4 separate regions of the Homo sapiens genome follow, and all the other regions are linked to region 1. Evidence: fine-mapped expression QTL. A gene starts in region 1. Each other region holds a variant in brackets. All regions are shown on one strand. Distances are from middle to middle.

Region 1 (5,120 bases):
CAAAGCTATCATTTTCTAAACTTTTCTTTTTAATTCAAATCATTAATATTTTGTGGCCAGATCAATACTGATTCATTGTTTTAAGCTTCAAATGCATTATACAGTTGGGCAGAACACATTTCCTCTCATCAATCTTCTTTTCCAGGATTTGTCAGATATTCCTGACATTAATTCACTACTAATATGCACAGTTTCTCTAATCATGGTCAACAAAGATCTGACAGTGCATTGTCCCTAAACGACCCATACTTGCCTCACTGACACCATGTGGCCCACTTCCCATCTATAATCTATGTCTGGGTGTGAAGCCCTTCCCATATGATCCCCCGAATGGAACTTCACAAGTTCGAATTCACTGGGTCACAGTGTGATAGCGTGAAGATGGGAGGACGTTAAGGGAAGGCTATGGGTGAGTTGGGAAATGTGTTAGGCAGGGTCAGAGATTACCACATCCTAAAAACAACACTTAAGGCGGGAGATGACAAAACAATCAATGAATAACATGACTTTTTCCAGTGAAAGTGCCATATCTAATCCTTTTCCATTTTTGTTCTCTGAGCTTCTTTCTTAGGGAAGATCCTTCTTGAGAAGCCCCTGCTGAGTATTAGGAAAATGCATTTCAGGACCTCTCATCAACACACCCTCTTTCTTTACCACAACCACATATATGGGGGCATAACTCAACATGTGTAAAAGACAATCTTCTGCTTTTCACTGAACCTCCAGGAATTCAGGACAATAAACCTCTACATGCAGACCAACAGGTGAGTTTTTCTGCCCCTTCTTTCATAACACCGTTCTTCCCTAGTGAAGTCCACACACATCCTTACATGGCAGCTGTGGGTATATCAACTGGTCTGACCCCTTTTAGTCACAGAGCCTGAAGTCTGCTAGTACCTGCTGAGCACAGTGTCATGGGTGAGAATGGGCAAGGCTTTTTCTTTCTCTGGTTCCTGAACTTCCCAGGCTCTCTCACTTCTGGATCCTGAATACCCAAATCCCAAGCTTCCTTCCCAGAACCAACACCTCCTCCTCATTAGAAAGATACCTTTGTTGTGTGCTTACTTTATAAAGTCTTGCTCTTTCCCTGTCCACTGCCTTGTGTCACTATGTGTGTGTCTTGGGGCCGGTGGAAAGGTGAACAGAAGCCAGTAGAGAGTAACAAGCACCAGCTTCACAGGAATGGCATGACCTTAATACGATAGTGGCAGTTTTCCCTTAACATCCCTGCCCCCTAAAGATTTCAGATCATATGTCACACTCTTAAGTAACAGCGATTTGTCTTTCACGGTTTTAATCATATTGATTAAAAGCATTTGTCTTCTCCAGAACATCACATTAAGTCATCAAAAAATATAAACCTTAAAAAGATGTAATTATTGGAACTGAAAAACATAAAAGGTGAGCTTTGGAAATATCTTTGAGCAGTCTATTCATTATGAACACATGTAATCTGTTGGAACAAAGTTCTAGGACAATCCAGGTCATCCTTCAATATTTGCAGAAAACAGCACAAAGAAAACTTGATACTTAAACTTAGTTGGAAACTTTATGCCACAGCCATTAAATACAGAGATCATATAAAGGAATAGAGGAAGCTGTTGAATACTAAACTAACTCAAATCATCATTATCCTTACGAAGTGCACACTGAATTAATGTAAAAAGCATTTAGTAAACAAAAAGTATTTTCAATATACAATTAAGACTGAAAAGTATTGAGGCCTCATAAGCTGAACCTGACACAATAAATTTAAAAGGGAAACTAATTTGGAAATCAGAAAACCATCTAAAGAATTTGGGAATTAGGCTTCTGCTGCCCTCTCTGCTACTGACGGTCAAGGCCTCCTCATTGTATTCTGTCCTCCATATCTCTGCTGATTCCCATTTTGTCTATTTCCATTTACCCCACTACTACTTGCTCAGGTCACTCTCCTTCATTGTCGGTGTTTGTTCAAATTCCTCAGACCCATCCACTTCCCATCTAAACTTCCCTCCCCTTTTCTCGCTCGTTGGCTCTACCTCCCTCCTCTGTTTTCTCCTCACTCTCCTGCCCCACCTCGACATCCACAGCGAGGCAATGAAGAAGCCCCTGCCAAGGAAGAGCCCGCTTCTCAGTGGGACACCGGGAAGGTAAACACCCAACAGTCACCGCTAGTGGGAGGCGATTGTGCAGAAGCACGAGGGTTGTTACAGGATCGGGCAGGTCCCCTACCCCAGTCTCGGACTCAGGGTCCTGTCTGAGGCGGCCACCCCGAAGCGTGGGGTTTGCGGAGACGTAGGGCCTGGCGGAGGGAAGGATGGGGAAGCATCTCAGGGAGGACTGGCGTCTGCCGAATCCCAGGGCTGCCCTGAGGGGCCAAGAGGGGCGAGGGTGGGGACGATGGAAGACAAGCCACATGCCGAATCGGGACCTGAGGCCGCGCGCGATAGGATGGGCGGACGGTGAAGAGAACTAGGGTGGAAGGGCCGGACAGGGGCGACCTCAGTGACGGAACCGGACACAGACGCAGATCTGGCAGCTGGGCGACAGGCTTCGGAGCATTTCCGGGCGTCGCGGGACTCCCCGCCGACAGGAGGGCGGTTGCCGAGCCTGTGACATCCGCGGAGACCAGCAGACCCCGGGTGTGGAGGACGCCGCAGGAAGGGAACTGCGTGGCTGGGTTTGGCCACAAAAAGCGGAGGGCACTCACCCGAGCGGACCTCGGCTCCGGAGAATCCGTTTCCGGGTCAACAAAAAACGTCGCGCGAGGGGCGGGGCCCGTACGTGCAGGGAGGGGAGGCAGAGAAAAAGGCGGGGCCGGGCCGGGGCGGGGTCTCGGGCAGGGGCGGGGAGCTTACCGACCTCCCGCCCCCGCTGCGCGCGTTTCTGGCCCTGCCAGTGTCTCCGCCGGTTGAAAGCGCGTGTCTGCGTCGGGTTCTGTTGGAGTGCGTTCGGTGTGCCGTGGGTCCGCGCTGCTTCCACCCAACTTCCTGTTAGGTAAGAGGCGCGTGAGGCTCCTGTGCCGGGGGCGGTGCTGCTCCCGAGTCGGCGCGCGGCGGGGACGCGAGTCCGTAGGTGCTGGCGGGAGCGAGAGTCGGGTGGGGACCCTCGCGAGCCCGCACTCCGCCTCTGGGTAGCAGCCTCTTCGGCCCCACACGGCGTGACGCGCGCTCGGGCTCCGCGTTCGCGTCGAGGCAGAGGCGTAGTAGGGGTCGGGCCCAGGGCTGGAGGGGCCGGGACCGGGCGGGGTGCCGCCCTGGACACCGCGCCGGCAGCTGTTCCGCGCGGGTTCATGTCATTCCTATTTTCAACCTGTCCTGCTCCGCACCTGAGATGATTTATAAATTCGGTACCTTTGGGACAGGCGTGGATGACATCCCATAATTTACTTCGTTATTAATTTCTAAATGTAATACATACCACTATCTAAAAGTATTTTTTAATTTGAAATATATTTGTATACGTATACATGTATATTTATTTATTTCTGAATTTTATCTCGTACATATAATGAGGCTCGTAAAGTGGATACTGTTCAGGACATAGGTGGATTTTGCTTTTAAGTAGTAAAGACTTAATTGGTGACTTACTGGGGCTATTTGATAAGGATTTTTTTTTAATGAACATTAAAAACAGTGAAATTGTATTTCCGGATTTCGTTAGCTTCATTTATATCTTAATTGGTGAAAACTGTAAGTTAATAACTCATTTTTATTTCCTTTGGAGATTCTTAAGTTTGTGCTACCAATGATTATTTCCAAAAAAGGCACACTTCTGGTTTTCCCAGAACTAATGCTAGCTTCTCAATCTTTTGAGTTTACTTGATATTAATGTTTGACCTCAAATCATGTCACATTTTTGAAGAAAACTTTCTCTTAGCCAATGGAACATAAACCACCCTGGAGTTCATATAGAGGAGGGGTTCAAATGCCTCTGATAGTGTCGTGTTAAAACTCATGGCCAAACGCAAGGTCACATAGCTTTCTTTCTATGTTTCCCTCTAGAATTTGTATAGTTTTGTCATTATAAAATGGGTCTTGTCCTAGACCCCAAGAACAGGTTTTTGGATTTCACATGGGAAAGACCTTTTGGCAAGTCACAGAGTATAGTGAAGTTAAGATAGTTTATTAGTGACTACTCAGCTACATAGCAGGGCGTCCTCAGAAAGCAAGAGGAGAAATGCACCTGTTGTAAACATATAATTTTTTTTTGAGACAGAGTTTCTCTCCTGTCACAATGGCATGGTCTCGCCTCACTGCGACCTCTGCTTCCTGGGTTCAAGGATTCTCCTGCCTCAGTCTCCCAAGTAGCTGGGATTACAGGTGCGTGCCAATATACCCGGCTAATTTTTTGTGTTTTTGGTAGAGACTGGGCTTCACCATGTTGGTCAGGCTGGTCTGGAACTCCTGGCCTCAAGTGATCTGCCTGCCTCGGCTTCCCAAAGTGCTGGGATAACAGGCATGAGCCACCCGGCGCCCGGGCTTAATGTTTGTTTATATAGGTTATTAAGAATCAGTTTGTGACAGGCTATTAGTATTGTTACTTCTCTTTGTTACTGTCGATTTTAACAACAATTTATGTGTGTACTGTTACCTTTAAAGTAAAACTTATTTTTAAACTAAGAATGCTTTTTGTTCTTAAAGTTCTGGGACATTTAAATAACTTTCATGTCTTTATTAACTTGTTCCCACAATCATAAATATTTTATAACGAAAAGTGCTCAACCCCCGAAATATATAATCCAACAAATTTAACGTGTGTGTGTGTGTGACAGAGAGAGAGAGACAGGGTCTCACTCTGTCGCCCAGGCTGGAGTGCAGTGGTGCGATTATGGCTGGCTCATTGCAGCCTCGAACTCCTGGGCTCAAGCAATCCTCCCGCTTCAGCCTCCTGGGTAGCTGGGACTACAGGTATGTGCAAGCATGCCATCTAATATATATATATATTTTTTGTAGACATAAGGGTCTTGCTATTTGCCCAAGCTGGTCTTCAACTCCTGATCTCAAGTGATCCACCCGCCTTGGCCTTCCAAAGTGCTGGGATTACAGATGTGACCACTGCACCCTGCCCAGATTTAACTTTTTAAAAGCCTTTATTTGAAATAAAGTCACTGTGGTTAAGAGGCCTCTGACGGTTTT
Region 2 (5,120 bases), 37 kb before region 1:
ATGCTCCGTGCAGGATGTCCTGTGTTCACGCCAGGGCAGGCACAAGGAAAGTCAGCACGGCCCCATGTTCCCAGCAGCTCAGTCTCACCTGTGAGTGGCAGGAGTGCGAGGTGTGAGTTGGATGAGGGCTTTGGACCCCAGCGCTAAGGTGGGCTACGTGGAGCTCCCAGGATGCTGGGGTCACAGGCCCCAGTGAGCCTGCTGAAATTGTAGCAGAGACTGTAATATTTTATCTAGACTACAAGACATAAATTTGCTGTGTGTTCTTGCACTACCAACTTTAATAATAATGTCTTTGCATGCCATCTATTCTCTCATGGGCAATAACACAGATACAAACGGTCCTGAGTGCTCAGCGCTGCTGGGTTTTGGGGTCTGCTTTAGGGGAAACATTTCCAAAACCTGCCATCCGGTGCGTTTGCTCTTCTGAAAAACGTCCCCAGAACCAGCGGCCGCCTGGCCTCTGGGGCGCCCCGCAGGTCGTGTGAATACACATGTGGAGTGACTGAAACGGATGCTTATGGCTACTTTCCCACCCTGGAGGAGACTCTGCCATCTGGGTTTGGGCTAAAGTCGAGGTAGTGTGTGAATCTGATTTCCCCCTTTATGTAATGAGCTGTTTTCCTGATCTGTGGACCTGTTATGTCATGGCTTTGATGAACAAGAATAAAAAAGGTAAGTGAGAAAACAAACAAAATGAATATATCTGTAGGAATTCAGTGCTCTCGAAGAACTGCAACTCACTGCCTTCTCAAATCTCAGATACCACTATTTAAAGAAGATAGGATGTGGTTAAAAATAAGTAACGCAACGATTTCTGAGTGTCCATATTGGGTAACTGTTGACTATAAGCCTCAGGTATTGCTTCTTTTGTGTGTGTCTCCATTGTTGTGTTTAACCCAACTGACCAATTTAGAAAATGTAATATTCTTTTGATATTCCAAAAATTTTTGAAAATTAATTCAAAAATGATTAGGTATGATTTTCACTAGAAGGCAAATAACATCAAAAAGGTATTTTAATGAGAAACGTCATCATTAGATATTCTTTTAGATTTTTTCCTTTGGAATTGCAGATGTTTCTGAAAACAGCAAACTGGTATCATGATTTCAGAGTGAAAATGTGGGGACAGAGGTGGGCGGGAGGAAACAGCCTTGGTAGGAAGTGGACACAGGCCTAGAGCTGGAGCTGGGGAGCCTGCAGGCTCTGGTGTGGGATTTGTTTAGCAGTGCAGGGGCAGGTGCTTCTCACTGCCCCTCCCCTCACTCCACTCTCAGAGCCCCCACTGCAGATCTTTGGTTGGTGCTCTTCAGAACCTGTCACACTTTCCCAGGAAGAATTGGTCTCATTTTCTTAACAGTTTGCACAGGTCTTCCATGCCCTGTTGTGTTCCCCAGTGCGACATTTCTCTCATTGCATGTAGTGATCAGTTTAGGGTTTGTCGTCTGCTCTGTGTGGTGAGGCTGGAGGGCTCGAACTGTGTCTTGTCACTTTCTATATCTCTGGTGCTAAATCTCAAGGAGACGTACAATCTGTCTCTTTTTTAAAATTAATTGTTTGATCCCCTTCGCCCATATGGCCCAAAGTGACCTAGTCCATCATGAATTCCCCCAGGCCTCTGGTTCCTCCTTTTCCATTTACCCAGGTGCTCACCCCACGCACTGTCCTGTCCAGGAACTCTGATCTGCTCCACGTCCTTACTCAAGCCCTGTCACAGTGCCGTCTCTGACTCCCCTGATGTCACCAGTTGTGGTTTCCCTCATCTCCTCGGGTATTTAGGGATCACAGCATTCACTTGTACATTGCACTTGCCCCCCTGCCCTGCCCCCACCAACCGACTTCCTTCTCCAGGAACACAAATCCTACATAGTGAATTGTAAATTTTCAAGTATTACTCTGATCTGTCCTATGTCGGGGAGCTGGCTGGCGCCAGGGGGATGTGTGTCTGGCCCAGCTTTGGCACTGCTCCCTGTGAGTCTGGGTAAGTCCCCTCCCGACTCTGGGCCTTGGTTTAGCCCCTTGAAAATGTTAGGTTGTTTGCTTGATCACATCCGTTCTCTAGAGTTCTGTGTATCTGAAAATCAATGCAGCTGTGTATATTTTTCTTGATAAGCCCCGAGCTTATCCATGGGGCTCTGATCTTGAATAGCGCTTCAGTACAATATTTGATACAAATTTGAGCAAAATCCAGTGAGATATTTTTAAGCTATGTAAGTGTGATTTCTCCTCACTTCAACGAAGCATTATAATTTACATGACTATGTGTACATCTAAAGCGTCTGTCGTGGTTTTGACCTCTGTGACATTGTAGTCTTTACCAGGTGGTCAAAGCCATCCTCAGCTTAATGAAAACCAACTATGTGTTCCTAAAATTATGAAAGTTCAAAATGATAGTGGTCATTTCAGTTGACAGAAAAAACCGTTTGTGTTCAATTTTTTAGTCACCTCAGCAAATACTCTCTCCATTATCACTGCCTTTCTCAAAGCAGATCTTGAAGTGACAGAGCCTACTGTTTTGAATATAGTTGTCTGCCCTAATTTTTAAAAAGTCTCTAGTTGCAAAAATTACATTGTTGTTAAGGTTGAGAATGTATGAACTCAAGGCAGTCTGCAA[C/A]TGTGGTGCCAAAGCTCCTTACATTGGTATTCAAACAATGTAACTTTGCTGTCAACATGTAGGATAGATACTTTCCCTCCCTCCCTCTCTTTCTTTTTGCTCTTTGTTCAGTGGTGGTGTTATGTGGATAAGGGAACACATTACTCCTTACACATCGTCTTTATACAACATACATTCAGGCTCAGATTCAACGGCTATCCACTGCTTGCTAACACCTTTTTGAGCATATGACATCTATCAGGTAGCTGCATAGGGTTTAGGTCTAGTTATTCATGGATTCTGCATAGGAGCTCAGCCTCTGATAAGATCTGTGACAATGCTCATCACTTACCTGTCTCTTCATATTCCTGTCTTGATATTCCATTTTTACTCTATAATTTTCTATCTTCATTTGGTTTTATGTTATTAAATACTTCATTGTAAACTGTTTCAACTCTTTTCTGGAACAGGGTGGCACAGAAACAAACCTCTAACTCTTCTCATCCTTCTTTTTTTCTTGGGGGAGGGTGGTTATTTCTGAATTTTATTTTTATTTTATTTTATTTTAAGTTATGGGATACATGTATAAGATGTGCAGGTTTGTTACACAGGTAAACGTGTGCCATGGTGGTTTGCTGCACCTATCAACCCATCACTTAGGTATTAAGCCCTGCATCCATTAGCTATTTTTCCTGGTGCTCTCCCTCTCCCCGCTCCACCCCCACAACAGGTCCCAGTGTGTGTTGTTTCCATCCCTGTGTCCATGTGTTCTCATTGTTCAGTTCACACTTGTAAGTGAGACTGCGTGGTGTTGGGTCTTCTGTTTCTGTGTTAGTTTGCTGAGGATAATGGCTTCCGCCTCCATTCATATCCCTGCAAAGGACATGATCACATTCCTTTTATGGCTGCATAGTATTCCCTGGTGTATATGTACCACGTTTTCTTTATCCAGTCTATCATTGATGGGCATTTGGGTTGATTCCATGTCTTTGCTATTGTGAATAGTGCTGCAATGAACACACACGTGCATGTATCTTTATAATAGAATGTTTTATATTCCTTTGAGTATAGACACAGTAATGGGACTGCTGGGTCAAATGGTATTTCTGGTTCTAGGTCTTTGAGGAATCACCACACTGTCTTCCCCTAACCAAATTTAAAACAGTTAACAATTTATAAAATAATGTATTCCTCTTTTCAAATTATCCAAATTCAATGAAACATTTCATGTGGAAACTAAAATTTGCTGGACAAAAATTGTACCTCACAGTTAACAGTCTGTTTCACTAACATTTGTGCATAAAACCTATATATCTGAAGGAAAAAATGCCTAAAAGCAAAGATAATATGAGGGTAGCCATGGGGAAAACAGAAATTGGCACCAAAATCCTTGAAAAGTATCCTAACCCATGCTGTTTCACGTTTACACTTTACTCAATTTACCTTTATCAGAGGGGCCAGAAACAATCAATTCAACTTCATTGACCCTATAATTTACAAAGGAATAGCGTATGTATTGGCTTTGGGGTTTCTAAGAAATAGTAAAAGGATAAATAGTGAATTGGTCACCTAATCGGGAAAGGTGGTTCCTTGGTAAGATGATAATTTCAGGTGTGAATGACCACAGTGTATTCCTCTGCCCACTCCTTCAGCCTCATAGCCTCAGGCAAGGTGGCCACTTCAATAGAACCCTGCAAAGTCAGAGGGCCTGAGTTCAAGCCCTAACGCCTTTGTCTCTCTGATTTACCCACTCTGACACAAGGCAGGCTTCTCACTTCTCAGAGTGTTTCCTCATTAGGAGTCTGATAATAATTCAGATATTACCTCCCAAGGGAAAAGAGGAAATAATATATACAACAATGCTTTATATAGTATACCTTGATATCCCTAAATCATTATATTTCTGGATGCTTTTCCTGAAGCAAATGTTTGGCTGGACTACCAAAGTCAGTAATTTCATAGGCTTTTCTCAAGTATTTGTCGTAACTACTGTCGTCTCCATTTTACCTAAAACATTAATTTTCCCATGAGAATACACCAGAGGTTCTATAATTGTACTGCTAGACTTAATTTCTCACCCTTTCCCCCTTAGTCTTTGAATAAAACAATTTCTATACATTTATTGAAAACTCTAAGTCTGAATTATTTGATAACATTAATGTTGATTTCAGATACAGATAGATATATTTCTTCAGCCAAGTCATGATATTTTGGTGTGGAAAACAATACTCCTAATTCTCTGTTTGTCCTTTCATCCTATGGTGAAAACTTCAAGCACACTATAATTTATTCATGCCTTACCGTAGTCCTTCATGCCTTTATACTCTTATTAAATGTCTTTTAAATTAATTTTTATTACATGGTAATACATGCACATAGAAAAAATTAAGAATTCCAAAGGTTATGAAATGAAATATAAGGTTTTGTGTCCTTCCCCACTCTTCTATTTCTACTCCCACTCTTAGCAGTTGAAGAATCCCTCCACAAAAATATCATGTCTATCTAAGCATGTCCACATGGATTTGGC
Region 3 (5,120 bases), 26 kb after region 1:
TAAATGGTGATTTCCTTTATAGATGTAAATTTTCCTTACACAAGTGTAACTTCTCTGTTTTCACAACTTCCTTTGTTAGCATTTTTTTTTTTCAAAATAATTAGCTTGGAATAATTCTTAAGCCAAAGGGACATATTTTGGGGTTGCATATTCTGGTTTCCTACCATTATATTTTGGGGTGGCATATTTTGGTCTTATACACTGTGTTCCACCGGCAATGAAAAGAGTTCTTGTTTTTCCTCCAGCAATTTGTCATTTGTTAAAGAGTTTAGCAGTTCTAAGAGATATAGACCAGCTGTGCTATCTTTTTGTGGTTTTCAGTTCTCTAGTATGTTGAGCATCTTTTTGTAAGTGTACTTGCCATCTGTAGATCTTCTTTGGTGAGGCGTCTGTTCAGATCTGTGTGCATTTTTAATTGGGCTGTTTAACTTATTGTTTAGTTTTAACAATTTTTTATGTATTTTGAATACAAATTCTCAGATCTGTATTTTGCAAATATTTTCTTCAATATGTGGCTTGTCTTTTGGTTCTCTTAACAAGGTCTCTTCCAGAGTATAAACTGTAAATATTAAGAAATCCACATTGTCATTTCTTCTGTGTATATCAACCTTCTGTGTCATTTGTTAAAATTCATCACCAAACGCAAAGGCACATAGCTTTTCTTCTATAGTTTCTTCTAGAAATTGTATAGTTTTGCATTTTTAGTGTAAGGATGATTTTGAGTGGTTATTTGTGTAAGTTGTAAAGTTTTCATCTACATGCATATGATTTCTTATGGTTTCCAATTAATCATTCCCTCACTATTTTTGGGAAAGACACAGGATAGTGGGCTCTGTTAGAGTAGATAGCTAGCTAGACGTGAACAGGAGGGGGAGCTCCTGGAAAAGGGAAAGTCTGTGAAGGCTCACCTGGAGGGACCACCAAAAATGCACATATTAGTAGCATCTCCAGTGCTGGAGTGGATGGGCACTTGTCAATTGTGCTTAGGAGGGAGAAGAGGTACCTACACAGAAACACCCTAGAACTTCTCTTAAGATGCCCCAATCATCATTCACTGCAATAAAAATGTCAGAATATTGCTAGCTACATGCTGATAAGAAGGACAAAGGGGACATTCCTAAGAGAAACCTGGCACCATAAGTACAGATTAGGGCAGAGAAAGACATTCAAAAGAGGCAGGTGCAGTAGATACAAACGTGACTGCTGTCAGCCTGCCTGGGATGGCGGGAAGGAGGTTGGTGCCAGAGTGGATTCAGATTCATCACCCCACGTGTACCTCAATCAACAGGAGGTCCCACAAGCCTAAGTGGGGCAAGTCAGGGACCTAAGGCAGTAGCAGGAAAACCAAGGAAAACAAGCATAGACTTGAGACAGAGGCAGGAATGTGAAGAAGTCCAAAATAAAATTCCCTGCACAGGACTCTTAGGCTGTTTTCATGCACTATGAACCCACTCCTCCCTATTTTCCTACAATAAGCTCTTTACACTGTATTTCTTTTCAATGAAGTTATCTTCCATCTTTGTACTGCCTCTTGGTGAAAATCTTTCTTCCAAGTTAATAACTGGGACATCAGCTCTCCCCAGTAATAGCTCCTTTTCAGTTTTCATTTACAGAACTGATGGGGATTAATAACTGGCGCTCTGACTTTAAGTGGTGCAGGAGGCGGCCAGTAGGGGACGCCAGCCGTCACACCGGGAGCAAGAGGGCCCTGCTTAGTCCCCATCTGCCTGCATGTGGCGTGCAGCCACGACAGTGTCAGCAAGAGGGCCCGGCAGTGTCCCTAGCTGCCAGCAGGGGGCGAACAACGACTACACTGTGAGCAAGAGGGCCCTGCAGTGTCCTTAGCTGCCAGGAGGTGGCGTAGGGGCACCACACCATGAACAAGAGGACCGTGCAGTGCCCTGGTTGCCAGCAGGGGGCGTGCTGCCACTACACTGAGCAAGAGGATCCTGTAGTGCCCCCAGCGGACAGAAGAGGGCGTGCCCCGACTACACTGCAAGCAAGAGGGCCCGGCAGTGTCCCCAGCTGCCAGCAGGGGAGCAGCCGCCACTACACTTGGAGCAAGAGGGCCCGGCAGTGTCCCCAGCTGCCAGCAGGCGGGTGTGCTGCCACTACAATGTGAGCAAGAGGGCCCTGCAATGTCCCTAGCTGCCAGCAGGCGGCGTGCCGCCAGTATACTGCGAGCAAGAGAGCCCTGCCGTGCCCCGTCGCCAGCAGGAGGCGCTGGACACCACTGTAAGGAAGAGGGCCCTGAAGTTGCCCTAGTTGCCAGCAGGGGGCGCAATGGCACAGCACCGTGGGCAAGCAGGTCCTGTAGTGCCCGGGTACAAGCAGGGGGCACCCGAACCGGGCTTTTCAGATTACTCAGGTTCCACCCGTCTGTGCGCTGCGCCGCCGGGGACGTGTGTCTCTGCGCCTGCACCTCGCCATTCCCGCGCTCCCCGCCCGGCGGCGTGCAACTGTACACCTGCAACACGCCCCGCCATCCTGAGCCCAGCGACGTGCGTCTCTGCGCCTGCGCCTGCGCCGCGCCTCACTCCCGCCCGCCCAGCGACCCCTCCCCTCCGGGGACGCGGAGGCGTGCGTCTATGCCCTGCGCCGCGTCTCCCGAACAGCTCCTGCGCCGGCGCG[C/G]CGCGCCTCTCTGCGCCAGCGCCGGCGCGCCGTGCCTTTGCGAGAGCGGAGTTGGGTTCTCCTCAGCACAGACGCGGAGAGCATCGCGAGGGCGGAGCTGCGTTCTCATCTGCACAGATTTCAGTGGTACTGCGAAGGCGGAGCAGAGTTCTCCTCAGGTCAGACCCGGGCGGGCGGGCTGAGGGCACCGCGAGGGCGGAGCTGCGTTCTGCTTAGCACAGACCTGGGGGACACCGTAAAGGTGGAGCAGCATTCTCCTAAGCACAGACGTTGGGGGCACTGCCTGGCTTTGGGACAACTCGGGGCCGCATCGACGGTGAATAAAATCTTTCCCGGTTGCAGCCGTTAATAATCAAGGTCAGAGACCAGTTAGAACGGTTCAGTGTGGAAAACGGGAAACCAAAAGCCCCTCTGAATCCTGCGCACCGAGATTCTCCCAAGTCAAGGCGAGGGGCTGCATTGCAGGGGCCAACTGCAGTGTCGGAACACAAATGCAGCATTCCTAATGCACACATGACACCCAAAATATAATACCCACATTGCTCATGTGGTTTAGGGTTAGGGTGAGGGTTAGGGGTTAGGGGTTAGGGTTGGGGTTGGGGTAGGGTTAGGGTTAAGGGTTAGGGTTAGGGGTTAGGGTTAGGGGTTAGGGTTAGGGTTCGGGTTCGGGTTCGGGCTAGGGGTAGGGTTAGGGTTAGGGGTTAGGGTTTAGGGTTAGGGGTCGGGGTCAGGGTCGGGTTGGGGTTGGGGTTGGGTTTAGGGTTGGGGTTGGGGTTAGGGGTTAGGGGTTAGGGATAGGGGTTAGGGGTTAGGGTTAGGGGTTAGGGTTAGGGTTAGGGTTAGGGTTAGGAGTTAGGGGTTAGGAGTTAGGTTTAGGTTTAGGGGCTAGGGTTAGGTTTGGGTTAGGGTTGGGTTAGGGGCTAGGGTTAGGGTTAGGGTTGGGTTATGGTTAGGGTTGGGTTAGGGTTAGGGTTTGGGTTAGGATTAGGGTTAGGGGTTAGGGTTAGGGTTAGGATTAGGGGTGAGAGTTAGGGTTACGGTACTGTAAATAATTTCACATTATTACTAATAATAAATTATTATTTGTATTACACTGTTACGTAATGTAAACGCTATTAAGACATGTTTTTCTTCAAAGAATGGCCTTGGTTTCTGTGGGCTGTGCCTCGTCATGGAAGGGTAATGCATTCCTGCTAAATCATGGACAAAACGGGCTTCCAGGAGCTACAGGCCCCTGCAGCAGCAGCTTCTCCTCTACGTCCTTCACTGCCTCAAACTGTTGTTGACTTTGAAAGCTTCTTTCAGTCTAGTTTTATCAACAGAGCTAGTATTTCATGAGGTTCTACTACATACCAGGTTCCAGAAAGCTAAATGCCTTTTGTTATTATTCACTAAATACAAATCACAACTCTCTCCTCATTACTCACACAACAAAATTTAGCTGAGGGAGATTGAGTGACTTTCCCAGGGTCACATAGCTACTAAGAGCAGAGTCGTGTTTAGATTCATGTGGGAATATTGAACACAGAAATGAACCAGTGGAAACATCCTATGTTCCAAAAGCCTACTCAAGGCATTTCTTCTTATTTTAAGGAAAATCTTTATGCTAATTTTAAACTCCAAATACTTATGAATGGCAGAGATCTACAGATTTGATTCTGATGTAAGAAATGATGGTCACCAGCTGGTTACTGCTACCACCCCACAACCCCGAGCATACTGGACGAATGTCTAAGCCTTGTGGTTAGTGGGGACAATGCTGGTGGAGTCTGAAGTTGTCATGCAGTGACTCATGCAAGCTTAGGCAGATTTGGTAATATATGACACAGAGATGCAAAGAAATGTTGTAGCTGACACACACAGGCTGGCTCTGGGAGATGCAGAAGGAGCACGTCACCCAAAATAGAGCCAGACAAGACATCCTTAAGGAAGGAGCAAAAGGGCTGCATCTTAAAGAATGTAGAAAGGATTTGTCATGAGAGATGGGGCAGGAAGTTCTTGAGAGGCAGAGGGAGAGCATGAGAATGTTAGGAAGGGAGGAGAGATTCTCACACATCTGGGAAGCTGACAATCCATCAGCATGGCCAGAAGGAAAATAAGGAGGAGGAGCAGAAATAGATGAGGCTGGATATAGAAGCAGGGCTGAAGCTGTGTCGATTGTGGTAAAGAGTTGTGATTCTATCCAGAACGCAATAGGTAGCATTCTAAACAGAGATCTTTTCAAACAAGAGTCAGCAAGTATTTTCTGCAGGAGGCTAAATGTTAAATATTTTAAGTTTTCCAAGCCATATGGTCTCTCTCTCAATGACTCAGCTCTTCCATTATACCATGAAAGTAGCCAGAGACATTATGTAACACATGTATTGGCTGTGTCCTATTACAACTTTACTTACAAACGCAGACTGTGTCAGACATGGTCCATGCATGGTAGTTTGCCACACCCTGTTTTAGAAAGCTCAGGTTTATGATGTGATGGAGAATGCCTACAA
Region 4 (5,120 bases), 60 kb before region 1:
GATGCTTTGCAGCCAGTACATCAGAGAGGACTTTCCCTCAAGACTTCTGGCAAAAGTTGGGGTAACTTGCTGTTCTTGCTGGGGTCAGGAGCCGTCTTGCACCAATCTCAGAGGCCAGGGGATGGAGAACTCTCCTAGGGTAGTCCCAGGTTCTGTGCCTCCCCTGAAAACACAAGGTCGGAGCCTCCCCATCCAAATTAATGCTCAGACTGTCAGGGAGGAATGACTTCCAAAGAAAAACCAAGGGCCCTTATGAAGAAAAGGAAGGGGTGCACCTACAGTTGCCACTTCTGTTTGGAAGTGAGGGAGGGGAGGGCAGATTCCCTTGGCTTGTTCCCTAGGACAGCTGTACTTAGGTTTTACTACACAGTCCCCTGAAAATGCTTCTCTCATTAGTGTTGTGCCTCTCTCATGCCTCTTTCCTTGGATAAAGAGCAACCACATTACGAGCCACACTTGGTGCTGGTGCTGTGGCATGCAACACTACCTAATGCGAGAGAAAGATGTGAGCAAATATCTGGAATATACAAATATAATACAAAAATACAAATATAATCAGTTATACAGCAAACAGCTGTGGGAACAGCAGCTCTGCTTGCAGGGTTGGGTAGTGGAAGGTTGAGTTGATAGCATTTGGATTGGGCTTTGAAGTATGACTAGGAGCTTACCAGATAGAGAAGTGGTGTTTGGACATTGTATGAGAAGGAAACACAATCTGAGAAGGTGTACCATCCTAAGTGAATCTGTCACAGAAGCGAGAAGATGCTGTGTAAACCGGAATAATGCTTGTGAGCATGGATCTTGATCCCTTCGTGAGCAATAAATGATTTTGTGAATAAATTGAAAAATGCTAAATTAGATCATAGGATGTGTTTGCAGGGGTGGGGAGAGAGGAGAGCGTCGAAACTGGGGAAGTGGGGAACCAGAGATGGCAAAGCCTGGGACTTCCAGCTTCACCCACAGGACGCGAGGAGCCTCATCAGTATCACCCGCACAAGCAAGCTCCCATGAAGGCAGCGGTGTCCAGGCTCTGTCGCGTCCTTTCTTTGCAGCCTGGGCCTTGGTTTCTTGCAGGTGCTATGCCCAAAGGTTAGATTGACAGATGTGGCCGTGTCTATCAGGGAACATGGACTGAGGTCGGTGCTTTCAAGCACACTCACTTTTCACTGTGTTCAGAGGGGGTGGGAAACCTCCCCTAAGGAGGAGATATGACGTGTGCAGATTGAGAGCTGGGGCCACACGGATTCCTCCAGGGGCAAGGGCTGGTGACCTTGCAGTAACTTCCAGAGGCCTCAGCACCCTCCTCTGCACAATGGTGTTGGGCTAGCCAGGGCACCACAGAAAGGGTCAGCAAGGCACACCCTCGTCTATTGCCCAGGCACACATGGGCATCCATGACAGCCATGCACGTGTTAGAGCCTGACCAGAGCTGCAGCCTCCTTTGGCTGAGGTTGGAAAAGCGGAGATGTGTTCACAGTTGGAGAATTGGTATGCCTTAGCCAAGTGACATCCCTGTCCTTGGAAACTTATTCTGGGGTCACAGAATTAATTCCCCAGGATTGGGTGTCACGAGGAGGTGGTTCCTGTGGCTGAAAACCACCAACACCTCCTTTCCTGGAACATTTCCCTCCTGGCATAGGGCAGTTCTCATGCCAGAACATCTTGGGCCACAAAGAACCTTTAGGACTGAGTATGTCCTTCTGTTTGCTTTAAGCTTTTAAGAAAAAGAATATGCAGAGGCTGACTGAGGCAAAAATACAGGCTATTTCTGACGTTCATTCAGAATGCCACCTACCTAGGCCAGTTATTGGACTGTATGCCAGCCTCTTTCTGCGGGATGTAATCTCAATGTCTTTAAGTTCAGTCAGTCCTATAAATTGCTATCCCTATTCACGCAGTGTGTTTTCCCCTGTGTGAGGCATTTGTGAGTTCCATTAGCACTGATGGGACTTTTAAATGCAGAAGCAGCAGTGAAGGGAAGGGCATTTCCCAGCTGTAGGGCACGGGCCTTCTTTGAGATAAAAACCCACCCTGGCATCGATGACATGGGACCTATTCTGTGTCTTTTCACCCGAGAGCTCTTCAATCAACTGATGATCGCACCTGCATAACTGCTACCAGACCTGCTAAGGGGGAGCCTGGCCCAGCCATCTCTTCTTTGTGGTCACAAGCATGAATGGCCCTGGGACATCCTCTTTCCTCACTGTCCCCTCACAGCATTTCCTGACCACTGTGGCCTTGGTCCCACCACCCACCTGTGTGGCTCATCTGGCCATGCACCTCTCCAGCTCACAACTCTGTTTTCTCCCTGTTGTTTCTATGAAACCAGGTTCCAGCCCCGCCACACAGTCTGCACGGCCTCCACCACAGCTCTGGTGAGCCTCTTGGCCAGCTCCTGGTGACAGCGTGCACCTCCCTGCTCTGAGAAGGTCTCCCTCTCCTCTCTGCCCACCCTGTACAGAGACATCTTTCAAGACCAT[C/G]CCAGAGGAGAGTGGCCTCTCTCCTCCACCCCAAGAGGATGGCCTCTCCTGTGGCTGTCACTCATCTGACCCCTACCACAGACCTGAGGGCAAGTGGTGCTCACGGGCCCACATCTGCCAGCCTGCGCCTGGTTGGAGACGCCTCCCTCTCATTTGTCCTTGCTTGCTGCGTGACTTTGGCAAGTGCTTGCCTCTTTGAGACCCTCAGTTTTCACACCTGAGAAGTAGAAAGGCGGTGCCTGCCCCAGCTGCCCCGCAGAAGAGTTTAGGTGGCATGTGAGAAAATGCCTTATGAACTACGATGTGAGCAACTGCAGCATGCTGTGAACACCGCTTTCATGAGCTCCTCGGGGGCAGGGTAACACCCAAGTATTCTTACACCTCCCACCGGGCTTGTCACGACCGTATGCAAATGAAGGCCATCAAGCGTGTTTGATCAGTGATGTATTTCTTTATTTTTAGTTTTAGGATATGACAACTCTATTTTTAGCAGCTACAGCGGCCAAAACTTTGTTACCTCTCAGCAGTTGTGTGTTCTTCGAGAGTAGGTTTTGTGCTTTCAAAATATCTGAATCCTCTACCATTTACAGGTGTTCTGTACATATTTGGTGTATGAGTTGCTCAGGAAGGAAGAAAAATGTGCCCTGTTTATCTTTTAAAAAGATGGCTTGGCTTGGTACTCCTTTGCCTGCATTCCTTCTCTGTATTTAGAAACGAACCCACACAAGTGAAGGTAAACGAAGTCTCTTGAAAGATAAGGCAGGAAAAATGAGGATAGAAAACAAAATCCCTTTAGAGAGTTTACTTGGAGGCTACCACTGGCATCGCTGCTCTGCAGTCTATCAGCCAGAGGCCCCTGGTGCTGCAGCACGGCCTTGGCAGCTTCACCAACAGGAATGTGTTCTCCTAGGGTACTGGCGGGTGGCAGTCCCAGAGCAAGGTGTGGCAGGGCTGGTCCTCCTGAGGCCTCTCCCTGGCTTGCAGACGACATCTTCTCCCATGTTCTCATGTGGTCCTCCCTCTGCACACGCATATCTGACATCCTCCCATGTCCTCACACGTTCCTCTCTCTGCACTCGAAGCCCGGACATCCTCCTATGTCCTCACATGGTCCTCCCCCTGCACTCACATCCCTGACGTCCTCCCGTGCCCTCACGTGGTCCTCCCTCTGCACTCACATCCCTGACGTCCTCCCGAGCCCTCACGTGGTCCTCCCTCCGCACTCACATCCCTGACGTCCTCCCATGCCCTCACGTGGTCTTCCCCCTGCACTTGCATCCATGACGTCCTCCCATGCCCTCACGTGGTCCTCTCTCTACACTCACATCCCTGACATCCTCATGTGCCCTCACGTGGTCCTCTCTCTGCACTCACATCCTGACGTCCTCCTGTGCCCTCACGTGGTCCTCTCTCTACACTCACATCCCTGACATCCTCATGTGCCCTCACGTGGTCCTCTCTCTGCACTCACATCCCTGACATCCTCCTATGTCCTCACGTGGTCCTCCCCCTGCATTTGTATCCCTGATGTCCTCCCGTGCTCTCACGTAGTCCTCCCTCTACACGCACATCCATGATGTCCTCCCGAGCCCTCACGTGGTCTTCCCTCTACACGCGCATCCCTGACGTCCTCCCAAGCCCTCACGTGGTCCTCCCTCTACACGCGCATCCCTGACATCCCTTCGCCTTCTCCTGGGGACATCACTCCCATTGGCTCAGGACCCTCCCTTGTGGTCTCACCTAACCTTCATCACCTGTTTGAAGACCCCATTTCCAAAGACAGCCACATTAAGGGTTAGGGCTTCAACATAGGGCTTTGGCAGGACACAATTCAGCTGATTGCAGAGTCCAAATATCTCAGGCTTCTAAACATGAGTATGACATTGTGGACCTCTATCAGCAGAGACACTTTCGAGAGAATCTGGCTGAACTGTGGTGTCCACATGTCGATATTCTATTAGGTTCACAACAGGGAGTCCTCCATTTCAGAAGGATACGAGCCTTTCTGATGTTGACGTGTGGCTGGCCATCTGCTCTGGGGGTGGCAAGGCCGCTCTGCATGGGTGCCCATCCTCTTGTGGATGTCCTAGGAGTGCTTGTGTGCACCTGTGTGTGTGTTTGTGTGCACGTGTGTGTGTGCACACATGAGTGGGATGGGGACCCTGGGGACAAGAGTCAGAAAAGGAAAGGAAGAGGGAAGAAGGAGGGATTAGTATTAGCCCTCGTTATCATTACCATGGATACACCCTAATTACAGCAACTGCTGATTCAGAGCCGTGTGCCTTGAATGCCAATCTCTAGAGGAAAATAATGGAGACTCTGAAAGAGGGAGGAGAAATGAGGACAGAACTTCAGAGGGGGCAAGATGTATAATACACAGACGTTAACGCCCATTTGGTCGATTCAAGTAATTGTAGAAATGAACTCATTTTCATTCTTGTGTCATTATCTTAGGTATCCTGAAAACAATGTGCTTTCATTTTCTCATTTAAATTTGCACTTGTCTTTCTCAGGTTTTTGTGTCTGTTTCTGCTGTAAAACTTAAAATATATCCTAAATTACCTGGTCCTCCTCTTATTTTCCATTTTTCCTGCTATTTTATTGGCTTCAAAGTTTCTCTCACACTGAACTATATTCTCC

Direction of the effects. Positions count from the first base shown, and alleles are read on the strand shown. Sizes are in standard deviations (SD) of each study's normalised expression. Not every link is listed here.
As copies of C replace G in region 3, the expression in monocytes of the gene that starts at base 2,652 in region 1 goes up (moderate effect, 0.67 SD a copy in BLUEPRINT).
As copies of G replace C in region 4, the expression in breast of the gene that starts at base 2,652 in region 1 goes down (small effect, 0.21 SD a copy in GTEx).

What was found. PIP is the estimated chance that this variant, and not a neighbour inherited with it, causes the effect.
Region 2: its variant is the best candidate, but not a certain one, in a credible set for the expression of ZNF596 in sun-exposed skin (GTEx, PIP 0.88).
Region 3: its variant is the best candidate, but not a certain one, in a credible set for the expression of ZNF596 in monocytes (BLUEPRINT, PIP 0.57).
Region 4: its variant is the best candidate, but not a certain one, in a credible set for the expression of ZNF596 in breast (GTEx, PIP 0.52).

Annotation. Positions count from the first base shown.
Region 1 is chr8:229,988-235,107 of GRCh38, reverse strand. ZNF596 (zinc finger protein 596) reads right to left here and starts at 2,652. Exons shown (of 6, transcript NM_001042416.3): 1 at 2,414-2,652. It also overlaps the pseudogene RPL23AP53. RefSeq lists an enhancer at 2,446-2,765 and a silencer at 2,786-2,885.
Region 2 is chr8:267,363-272,482 of GRCh38, reverse strand. All of the region lies in intron 1 of LOC101927566 (a long non-coding RNA gene), which reads left to right. Among named protein-coding and RNA genes, the nearest start is that of ZNF596, 37 kb to the right of the region's middle. The variant C/A (reference allele first, on the strand shown) is at 2,615.
Region 3 is chr8:203,800-208,919 of GRCh38, reverse strand. It overlaps LOC124902051 (a long non-coding RNA gene), which reads left to right and starts at 3,640. Exons shown (of 2, transcript XR_007061161.1): 1 at 3,640-5,120. It also overlaps the pseudogene RPL23AP53. RefSeq lists silencers at 1,672-1,894, 2,019-2,098. The variant C/G (reference allele first, on the strand shown) is at 2,632.
Region 4 is chr8:289,526-294,645 of GRCh38, reverse strand. No RefSeq gene overlaps it. Among named protein-coding and RNA genes, the nearest start is that of ZNF596, 60 kb to the right of the region's middle. RefSeq lists an enhancer at 2,894-3,013. The variant C/G (reference allele first, on the strand shown) is at 2,481.